Homo sapiens: one gene and its partners. The protein of the gene in region 2 interacts with the protein of the main gene of each other region in a pairwise test. Each region holds a gene or a part of one and is shown on either strand. Other genes may lie near its edges. The genes, in order: ATXN7, THY1 and HTR6.

Region 1 (3,653 bases), on a different chromosome or scaffold from region 2:
AACAGCAGTGTGTGAGCACACACACACATACGTGTGTGTGCACATGTTGGGGGTGGTTGCTTGGCAATGCCACAAATCTATGCATCTAATATTCTAGGCAAGGATTCTGCAAATTATGGCCCATGGACCAAATCTAGCTAAGATTTGTATATAACAGGAGCTAAGAATGACTTTCACATTTTTAAATGGTTGAAAAAATAAAATATGACGTGACACATAAAAATTGCATGAAATTCAAATGTCAGTGTTCATCAACATTTCTTGGAACACAGTCATACCCATTCATTTATATCTATGAGTGTTTTCCTGCTATCATGGCAGAGCTGAGTAGGTGTAGAGACCTGGATGGCTGGCAAAGTAAACAATATTTACTATATGGTCCTTTACAGAAAATTTGCTGATCTCTGTTCCAGGCTATAAAATCACACAGTTGTTTGATGGATCACAGCTCCAAACCTGTGCAGGCTTGTTGGTTTGGCCCCTGACATATCCAAGATTTTGATATAACCTGCCAGGCCAATAGAGAATGCAACCCCATTGGCTAAGAACAATGGAGAAGTCCAATAGGTCATCAAGATGTTGGGATACCTGCCTATCATAACAAGAAAATGTAAAAGGCTTTTCTGAGTTGAAAGTAAGATGGTTCCAGAAGGTCTAAGTGGGAATAAGGATGAATAAAGGTATTCTCTTTAAAAGGATGTATAGTATCTCTAGCAGGGTGCGGTAGCTCACAGCTGTAATCCCAGCACTTTGGGAGGCCGAGGCAGGTGGATCACCTGAGGTCAGGAGCTCAGGATCAGCCTGGCCAGCATGGCGAAACCCCATCTCTACTAAAAATACAAAAATGAGCTGGGCGTAGTGGCACATGCCTGTAATCCCAGCTACTAGGGAGGCTGAGGCACGAGAATAGCTTGAACCCTGGGAGGCAGGAGTTGCAGTGAGCCAAGATCATGCCACTGCACTCCAGCCTTGGCAACAATGAGCCTCTGTCTCAAAAAAAAACAAAAAGAAAAGAAAAGAAAAAGATGTATGATATCTCCTTCTAAAGATGAGAATGTAACTGTCTTCAAAATGGCTACCACTTTCTGAGTACTTACTAGGAGCCTAGGAGTAAGCAAAACTTTTTTGCATTTATTATCCCATTTAATGGTCATCTCCTCTAGACTCAAAGAAGGAGACTGGACCAAGTTGAACACAACCAGAGAGCTCAGGAAATGAGAATCAAGGCCATATTCAAAGCCTAAAGGCTGTGTTCATAACCATTTCCCAACCCAAGGGCAGAAAGCATAAATGATCACCACGAATAAATGACAGGAAAGGTTAAGACTATAGAAATAGTAGAAGCAAGTTTATTTTTATGGCCATAAGCATTATACAGTATTTTATTTACGTATCTCACACTTTCTTTTGACTCATAATGCCCTCTCTTACTTCAGCATTTAAAGTAAAATATGATTCAGTCCTGCCAGACCCTTTCCTATTGACAAAAATCAACACAGGTACCCAACTGTGAAGGCATTTTAAAGACAGCAGAATTAGACAACTAAAGTTATAAGTGTAACTTCCACCCATGAAGTCCCTGGGTTACCTGTGAAGGTCTCAAAACGAAAGGAGTGCTGAAGCACTTTTAGGGGTGATGGACTATAAAGTACATGTGCAGTATTTTAGTTTTTTAATTCAGATTATAAGTGAAGAGAAAATGTTAAATGGAATCTTGCCCACAGAGAGAAATATAATGCTGGTGGGTGGCTATCATTTCTTCCTGCCCAGCAGCATCCATGTCCTCCCCTCTGCCAAATAAACCATCATTTTCCACTTTCCTCTAAATATCTATATTTGGGGACCACTCAATCCTAACTCATTTTTGAAAATCTTTTTCTTAAAAAACAATGTTTTAAGTGTTAATATCTTCATCACACCAATTTGGAAATAATGTACTTATTATCCTATACCATGAATATACATGTTTCCTCAGATGTTTATTAATGGTTCCCCAAACCTGGCTTGTAAGTCCTTCTTGCGGGCCAAAGAGGAGCTAAGACTTTTATACGGGAAACTTCTAGCTAGCCTCCCAACAACTCTACTAGTTAGCCATATCCAGATGAGTAACTGAAGAGTCAAGCAGGGTAAGTAGCTACAGTGAATAAAGGAAACCAAATTTGAATTTTAAGTCTATTTTGACTCAAACTGTGTTTTTCCCATCATGTTCTACTGTCCTGCCAAGGCACAAACACATTTTCTTACAATGATTCCCTTTGAGTCAAATTTCAAATTTTCTGGAGAGAAGAGAGTGGAGCTGAAAGACCCATTTACTCCAACGGCTGGTGTCAAGATCAAATCTTTGCTTATCTACCATCAAACGATCTGGTCTGAATTTTTAGATATAATTTTTTAAAAACACAGCCACAGTACATGCAGGACTAGCACGTCAGACCAGCTTGGCTTATCAACTGATAGGCAATGCTTTGTTGTGGGAATAAAATGGAAGTGCTTTTACACCTCTAAGTCTGAAGACAACTTTATTTATTTATTTGTTTGTTATTTATTTATTTATTTCAGTGTCTTACTCTGTTGCCCAGGCTAGAGTGTAGTGATCTCGGCTCACTGCAACCTCAGCCTCCTGGGTTCAAGTGATTCTCCTGCCTCAGCCTCCTGAGTAGCTGGGATTACAGGCCACACCACCACGCCTAGATAATTTTTTTTGTATTTTTGGTAGAGATGGGGTTTCACCATGTTGGCCAGGCTGCTCTTGAATTTCTGACCTCAAATGATCCACCCGCCTCGGCCTACCTCAAATGATCCACCCGCCTTGGCCTCTCAAAGTGCTGGGATTACAGGCATAAGCCACTGTGCCCAGCCTGAAGATAACTTTAAAAGGCAAGTAACGAGCACACAGATCTACTTTTCAAAAATGTTTTTTTCTCTTTAGAATGGTCATTCTGTGATGGCTCATGACTGTAATCCCAGCACTCTGGGAGGCTGTGGCAGGAGGATCACTTGAGCCCAGGAGGTCAAGGATGCAGTGAGCCAGTTTCATGCAATTGCATTCCAGACTGGGCAACAAAGTGAGACCCTGTTTCAAAAGAAAAAGGAAAAAAGAAGAAAGAAAAGAAAAGAATTCTAACTTCCATTTTATTCAATAAAAAGATGTGTCTCTAATTTTTTTAAGTCCTGGATCTCTTTTCTAAAACAACTACAGACCCTCTTCCAGAAAAATACACATACACAAAAAGTTCTGGTCACAACTACAGGGAGTTCAGGAATCCCTTGAAACCAACCCTTGGAGGGTCACAGACCCCCAGGATAACTCTTGCTCTAAAAGCATAGTACAAAATTCCTTACATTATTTCACAGACCCAGAATAAAGACCATATATAGCTAGCTCTCTCATAATTTTTTATATTTTCAGAAAGCAAATATCAAATAAACACACAAATTTTCTTAACTAGTCTTTCATATTCTCAAAAAAAAAAAAACCCAGAAATCTTATGACTCAAATAAATCAATAAATATAAGGTCATACAAGTTCAAAGTCTGAATCAGTTTTCTTAAAATCTGCTACTTCCATTTCTGTGTTTCTGCCCATAAAGATCTGTCTTGAAAAGAAGAAACATTAGTATGGTAAGGGCTTGAGTCTTTGCTACTTTAACATT
Region 2 (2,752 bases):
CAGTTAGGGGCTTGTGTCTTTTATAGCTTAGCACAGAGCCAGGTGCATTTAGATGCTTAATGTTTGTTGTACAAATACATGATTTCAGCCCAGTCAGCTTATTTTAAGAATTATTGTTTTTATTATTTTTTTGAGACAAGGTCTCACAGTGTTGCTTAGGCTGGCCTCAAACTTCTGGGCTCAAGGGGGGCCTCCCATCTCAGCTTCTCAAGAAGTTGGGATTACAGGTGGCTGCCACTGCACCAAGCTCTAATCCTTTTTTTTTTTTTTTGAGACTGAATCTCACTCTGCCACCCAGGCTGGAGTGCAGTGGCATGATCTCGGCCCACAACCTCCGCCTCCTGGGTTCAAGTGATTCTCCTGCCTCAGCCTCCCAAGTAGCTGGGATTACAGCCGTGCACCACCACACCTGGCTAATTTTTATTTATTTACTTATTTTTTTTTTTTAGTAGAGACAGGGTTTCTGCATGTTGGCCAGGATGGTCTCAAACTCCTGACCTCAAGTGATCCACCTGCCTTGGCCTCCCAAAGTGCTGGGATTACAGGCGTGAGTCACCACACTCTAATTTTAAGACTTACTGAAGTGAAACCCTAAAGGGGGAAGAGGCTAGAGTCCTCTAGTCCATGTTCTCACCAAATTCAGGAAACTGCTTTATTGCAAACTTGACAGGTGGCCTCCACCTGGCCACGCCACTGCCAGGCACTCCCCGCCTGCACTGCTGGGCACCTCCAGCCATCACAGCCCCTTCCTGGTGCAGAGCCACACTTGGCCTCCATGAAGCTGCCACATTGGTCCTACCCACCCTCCATATGATGTGTCTACATCTACAGGTCCCACTGACCCCAGCTCTTCCTTGTGCCGGGCAAAGATGCCTCCTGTGGGTCTGCACAGGACATGTTTCTCCTTGAGTGTGTTGGGGACATTCCAGGCCTGAGAGTGTCCTGAGGCTGAGAGCCCCTGTTGAGCAGAAGAGAGCTGATGGCCCTCTTGCCTGGCCAGGACTCTCTGAAGGACTCCAGCTCCAACATTTTCTCACTAGTAAATGAGATGATTTACTCTTGACTTGGGTTTGTTTGTTTCACATGTAAAGACACCTTCACAGCACGAAAGCTGCAGATTCAGAGAGGGACATCAGGTTGAGGAGGCGGGAGGGATGTGTGTCACAGGTCCCCGGACGCTGTGTAGATTTCTTGGTTGGCCAGTGAAAGTCCCCACATCTCACGGAGATCCCCATGCCCTTCCCGAGGAAGCCTCTAGATGTCAGAGATGCAGACATTGCGCGTCTCAGTGGACAATCCAGTCCAGAAATGGGGGTGCAGAGAGGGGCTTCTGTTGCTCTTGAGCGGGAATTCCACGGCCCTAGGTATGGACTTAGGTGCTGAAGGGGGGGGACCCAGGAAAGAGGTTAGGACTGGCGAGGGAGTGGATGGGGATGGGGTTGGGGCATGTGTACAGGAACCAGGGCTGGGGGCCAGCCCTCTATAATTACCTGAGTCACCACAGATACCCCACAGCCTCCACAAGGCCTGCTGACTTGACCAGGGAGGGACCCACGGCTGTCGCGGCCTGTGGCTGAAAGTCTGCGGGCTCCCAGTCCTCAGCATGGTCATTCCGGGTAGGTTTATTTTATTTTTTATTTTTTTGAGATGGAGTCTCACTCTATCTCCCAGGCTGGAGTGCAGTGGTGCAATCTTGGCTCACTGCAACCTCCGCCTCCCGGGTTCAAGTGATTCTCCTGCCTCAGCCTCCTGAGTAGCTGGGATTACAGGCGCAGGCCACCATGCCTGGCTAATTTTTGTATTTTTAGTAGAGATAGGGTTTCGAGGCTAGTCTCGAACTCCTGACCTCAAGCGATCCGCCTCTTCCCAAAGTGGTGGGATTACAGGCATGAGCCACTGTGCCCATCTCTGGGTAGGTTTGCGTTGTGAGGCCTGATGCCCTGTTCTTCTCTTCTCCTTTCCGAAGTCCGTGGCCCTCTGGTGGCCTCTGTGGCTTCTTGAGCTAATCTCACCCACTGTGGGCCTCAGGTTCCGCTCCCCTAAACATGGCTGCAGAGGGCAACACCATCTCCCAGCACCCTTCTAAGAGTGTGGCTGCTAAACTCTTCAGGGACATAGTACTAGAGTGTGACAAAGACCCCATAGGAAGTGTCACACAGGTGCGAGGCTTCACACAGTGCCGCTCATTTCCTTCCAGAAATACCTCCATACTCTTTTACTATCCTGAGGGTGGGGCACCCCACATTTCTCTGGCATTTGATCTCCCTTCCCCCACAGCAGCTCTTCTCACCAAGATGCCTTTCCTTGGCACGGCGCTTGCAGCCCAAGCAGGGCTGAAGGAGAGGGGCCTGAGTCTCAGGGGTGTTCCTCCCCTTGGAGAGCTCTGGGCTGGCAGCATCTTGCTAAGGGGTTGTCAGCCTCCCAACCTGGGACAAGGACAGCTCCTCCTCCTCTGTGTATGGTAACTACAGGGGTGGAAGGCAAGGCAGAGAAGTTGACGGGAGGTAGCAAGAGTGGGAGCCGGTGGCATAATTTAGATCTGAGGCCTTTAAGAAAAATGCTCAGAAACAATCATCCTACCCAGTGCTAAATATCAGATGAGTCAGCCTCTGGGCAGCTGTCACCTTCCTCCCCCAAATTCCCTGGCAAAGCAGGGAGGCTGGCTTGGGGCTGCCTCTCTGACTCTGACAGCAGTTGGAACCCACAGCTACCCTGCGGTCCCCCTCTTGCCCCCAATCCCAGGATGCTCGCT
Region 3 (3,449 bases), on a different chromosome or scaffold from region 2:
ATTGTAATGTGTGTGTTGGCCTGTGTCACGTATTGTCTTTGCAGGGATGGTTGTTCTTCTGAACCATCTGATTTGTGTTTCAGGTATTGCTCTGTCTCACTGCACTTCCTAGAGCTCCTTATGAAATTCTGGGTCAGGGTCAGGGCTCAGTGTGGGACCAGGATCAGAGCTCAGTCTAGGTCCACAGTTGAGGCTTGGTTTGAGAACTTGGTTATGTAGGGCTTTATGGTAGGTGTCAGGGTTCAGTGGGGGGCCAAGGTCAGGGCTTGGTTTATTGCTGATGTCAGGGCTTGGCCTGGAGTCAGGGTCAGGGCTCAGTCTAGGACTCTAGTTGGGACTCAGTCAAGGAACAGGGCCCAGTTTAATCCTGGCACTAGGGCTCAGTCTAGAATTAGGATTGAAGCTCAGTCTGTGGCTAGGATCAGGGTCAGACGGGGGCCCTTTCTCAACGGACTCATGTGGCCTTCCTTTCCGCAGGTGCCCAGGACCCCACGCCCAGGGGTGGAGTCTGCTGACAGCAGGCGTCTAGCCACGAAGCACAGCAGGAAGGCCCTGAAGGCCAGCCTGACGCTGGGCATCCTGCTGGGCATGTTCTTTGTGACCTGGTTGCCCTTCTTTGTGGCCAACATAGTCCAGGTAATGCCACGGCAGGGGGCAGGTGAGTCCGGCCCTTGCAGGAGAGGCCCTGGATCCCAGCCCAGGCATGGGGACAGGGGAGGGTAGGCTGCCTCTCGTGGTGCGTGTGTGTGTGTGTCTGCTCCATACATGCTGGGAAGGGTGGCCTGGGTCCCTGCCCTGGGACCAGGCATGATGCATCCCCTCCCCCCAGGCCGTGTGCGACTGCATCTCCCCAGGCCTCTTCGATGTCCTCACATGGCTGGGTTACTGTAACAGCACCATGAACCCCATCATCTACCCACTCTTCATGCGGGACTTCAAGCGGGCGCTGGGCAGGTTCCTGCCATGTCCACGCTGTCCCCGGGAGCGCCAGGCCAGCCTGGCCTCGCCATCACTGCGCACCTCTCACAGCGGCCCCCGGCCCGGCCTTAGCCTACAGCAGGTGCTGCCGCTGCCCCTGCCGCCGGACTCAGATTCGGACTCAGACGCAGGCTCAGGCGGCTCCTCGGGCCTGCGGCTCACGGCCCAGCTGCTGCTTCCTGGCGAGGCCACCCAGGACCCCCCGCTGCCCACCAGGGCCGCTGCCGCCGTCAATTTCTTCAACATCGACCCCGCGGAGCCCGAGCTGCGGCCGCATCCACTTGGCATCCCCACGAACTGACCCGGGCTTGGGGCTGGCCAATGGGGAGCTGGATTGAGCAGAACCCAGACCCTGAGTCCTTGGGCCAGCTCTTGGCTAAGACCAGGAGGCTGCAAGTCTCCTAGAAGCCCTCTGAGCTCCAGAGGGGTGCGCAGAGCTGACCCCCTGCTGCCATCTCCAGGCCCCTTACCTGCAGGGATCATAGCTGACTCAGATATCGTGTTCTGAAGGATGCTCCACTGTTGAGTGTAACTTGTGTGTGCAGAGGATGGGCTGGAGGACTCTGGATGTTGGGGAGAAGGACCTCTTGGTTCAGGTTAGGATGAAAACAATCATGACCTTTGCCCATTCTGTCAGGCTGGACGGGAGGGAATGCCCCCACCTGCAGGCATGGATTAATGCTGGGCTGAACCCCTTGCTACTCACAGTGTAGTCCATGGACAATCGGCATTGCCGTCACCTTTGGGAGTTTGTGAAAAATGCACATCTCTGCCCCTGCCCAGACCTGCTGAGTCAGAACTGCATGTTACCAAGATCCCAGGTGAATCATGTGCCCATTACAGTTTGAGATGTGCTGCCTTAGATCATCTTTAACCCTCAGAATGATTTGCTGGATGGTTTTTGGACCTGTCAGTCTCCCCTCCCTGGTATATATGTGGCAGCAGCTGCACCTGGGAGGCAGGCAGGCATGCATGTGGGCCTCTGCTCTACCACCTATGAGCTCTGGGGCCTGACACGAGTTATTTAACCTCTCCGAGCCTCGGTTATCCCATGTGTAAGGTAGAGAAATGATGCCTATCTTGCAGGTTGTCTTGAGAATTAAGACAATGTGTGCCCAGCACCCAGTACACGGTCAGTTAATTGGTACGTTCTGTTGTTACGACCCCCGGCTATCCAGCCCCCTGGCCTCTCCGGCTGTGTGTCAGGAAGGGCTCTTTGCTCCCGTTGTTCTCTTTCCATTTGCCTCCCCCTCTTCAGCCCTGGCCTAGCCTCCCAAAGCCTGACTCTGGTTCCCCAACTCCCTGTTCTGGCTCCTGGGTGGGGACCCCATCTCTCAGGGACCCTCCCAGCTCCCAAGCTGCTGCCCTGCCTTTCCTGGGGGCAAAAGGGGCAGGTGGCAGTTTCTTTTTCAGCCTCAGAACTGGTTTTCCTCAATCCTGGGGGGTCCTTGGACCTAGAAGGGAACAACTGATGGGGATAAACCCAGCCCCTTGCCCACCTGCCTCTGGCCTTCCCTGGGGTCAGTGAGAGAAATGGGAATGGTAGCTACTTGGGTCAGCAGAGTAGAGTCAAAGAGCTGTTCCTGGTGTGAGGTGGGGCCCACGAGGCAGGCAGGTGGACTCTGGCACAGGGGCCTTGGTTTCTGGGGGCAGGGGGTTGGGGAACTCTTGGTCGCCAGTTTACCTGCCATAGGTCCCTTTTCAGCCCTGCCTCCCCCAAGTTCCATCAACACAAACTCCCAGGGGGTCCTCCATGCCTGGCCTGGCCCTCTCCTTGGTGCTGATGAGACACAACTCTGGCCCCGGCGGCTGGCCTCTGAGGGGCCATGGTGCTTGCGGGGCTTCCCCTATCCCCCAGGTCTGCCCAAGGGGACTCTCAATAAACTCTAGCTGAAGGCAGTGGCTGTGGTGTGGACTGGATTCAACTGAGGGGCCACTCGGGGCTTGAGAAGCAGCTGGTGTCGTGGGGAGGCCTGGGTGTAGGTGTCCTGGGTTCTGGTCCAGATTCTGCCCCTTCAATCTGGGACCCCAGAAAAATCCTTTCCCCTTTCAGAGCCTCCATTTCCCATGTATGACATGAGCAGCTTAGTTTAAAAGCAACAAGAGTTGCATAAATACTTGTTTTTAAATTTTGTGTTTTAAGAGTTGGAGTTGGCTGGGCATGGTGGCTCATGCCTGTAATCCCAGCACTTTGGAAGGCTGAGGTGGGTGGATCATCTGAGGTCAGGAGTTGGAGACCAGTATGGCCAATATGGTGAAACCCCATCTCTACTAAAAATACAAAAAATTAGCTAGGCGTGGTGGCAAGTGCCTTAATCCCAGCTACTCAGGAGGCTGAGGCAGGAGAATCCCTTGAACCTGGCAGGTGGAGGTTGCAGTGAGCTGAGATCATGCCATTGCACTCTAGCCTGGTGACAAGACAAGACTCCGTCTCAAAAAAAAAAAAAAAAAAGAGTCAGAGTCTCACTCTG

What was found.
Region 1: the proteins of THY1 (region 2) and ATXN7 interact in a two-hybrid assay, tested with the Homo sapiens proteins (one study listed by BioGRID).
Region 3: the proteins of THY1 (region 2) and HTR6 interact in a two-hybrid assay, tested with the Homo sapiens proteins (one large-scale study listed by BioGRID and IntAct).

The regions. Positions count from the first base shown.
Region 1 is NC_000003.12:63,866,784-63,870,436, reverse strand, and holds part of ATXN7 (ataxin-7), read right to left. Parts: intron 3,597-3,653; exon of another isoform or gene 3,524-3,596; intron 1-3,523. UniProt on the Homo sapiens protein: Acts as a component of the SAGA (aka STAGA) transcription coactivator-HAT complex. Mediates the interaction of SAGA complex with the CRX and is involved in CRX-dependent gene activation.
Region 2 is NC_000011.10:119,414,849-119,417,600, forward strand, and holds the end of THY1 (thy-1 membrane glycoprotein isoform 1 preproprotein), read right to left. Parts: 3' UTR 628-2,752; downstream 1-627. UniProt on the Homo sapiens protein: May play a role in cell-cell or cell-ligand interactions during synaptogenesis and other events in the brain.
Region 3 is NC_000001.11:19,678,090-19,681,538, forward strand, and holds the end of HTR6 (5-hydroxytryptamine receptor 6), read left to right. Parts: intron 1-477; coding exon 478-636; intron 637-829; coding exon 830-1,279; 3' UTR 1,280-2,877; downstream 2,878-3,449. UniProt on the Homo sapiens protein: G-protein coupled receptor for 5-hydroxytryptamine (serotonin), a biogenic hormone that functions as a neurotransmitter, a hormone and a mitogen. Also has a high affinity for tricyclic psychotropic drugs.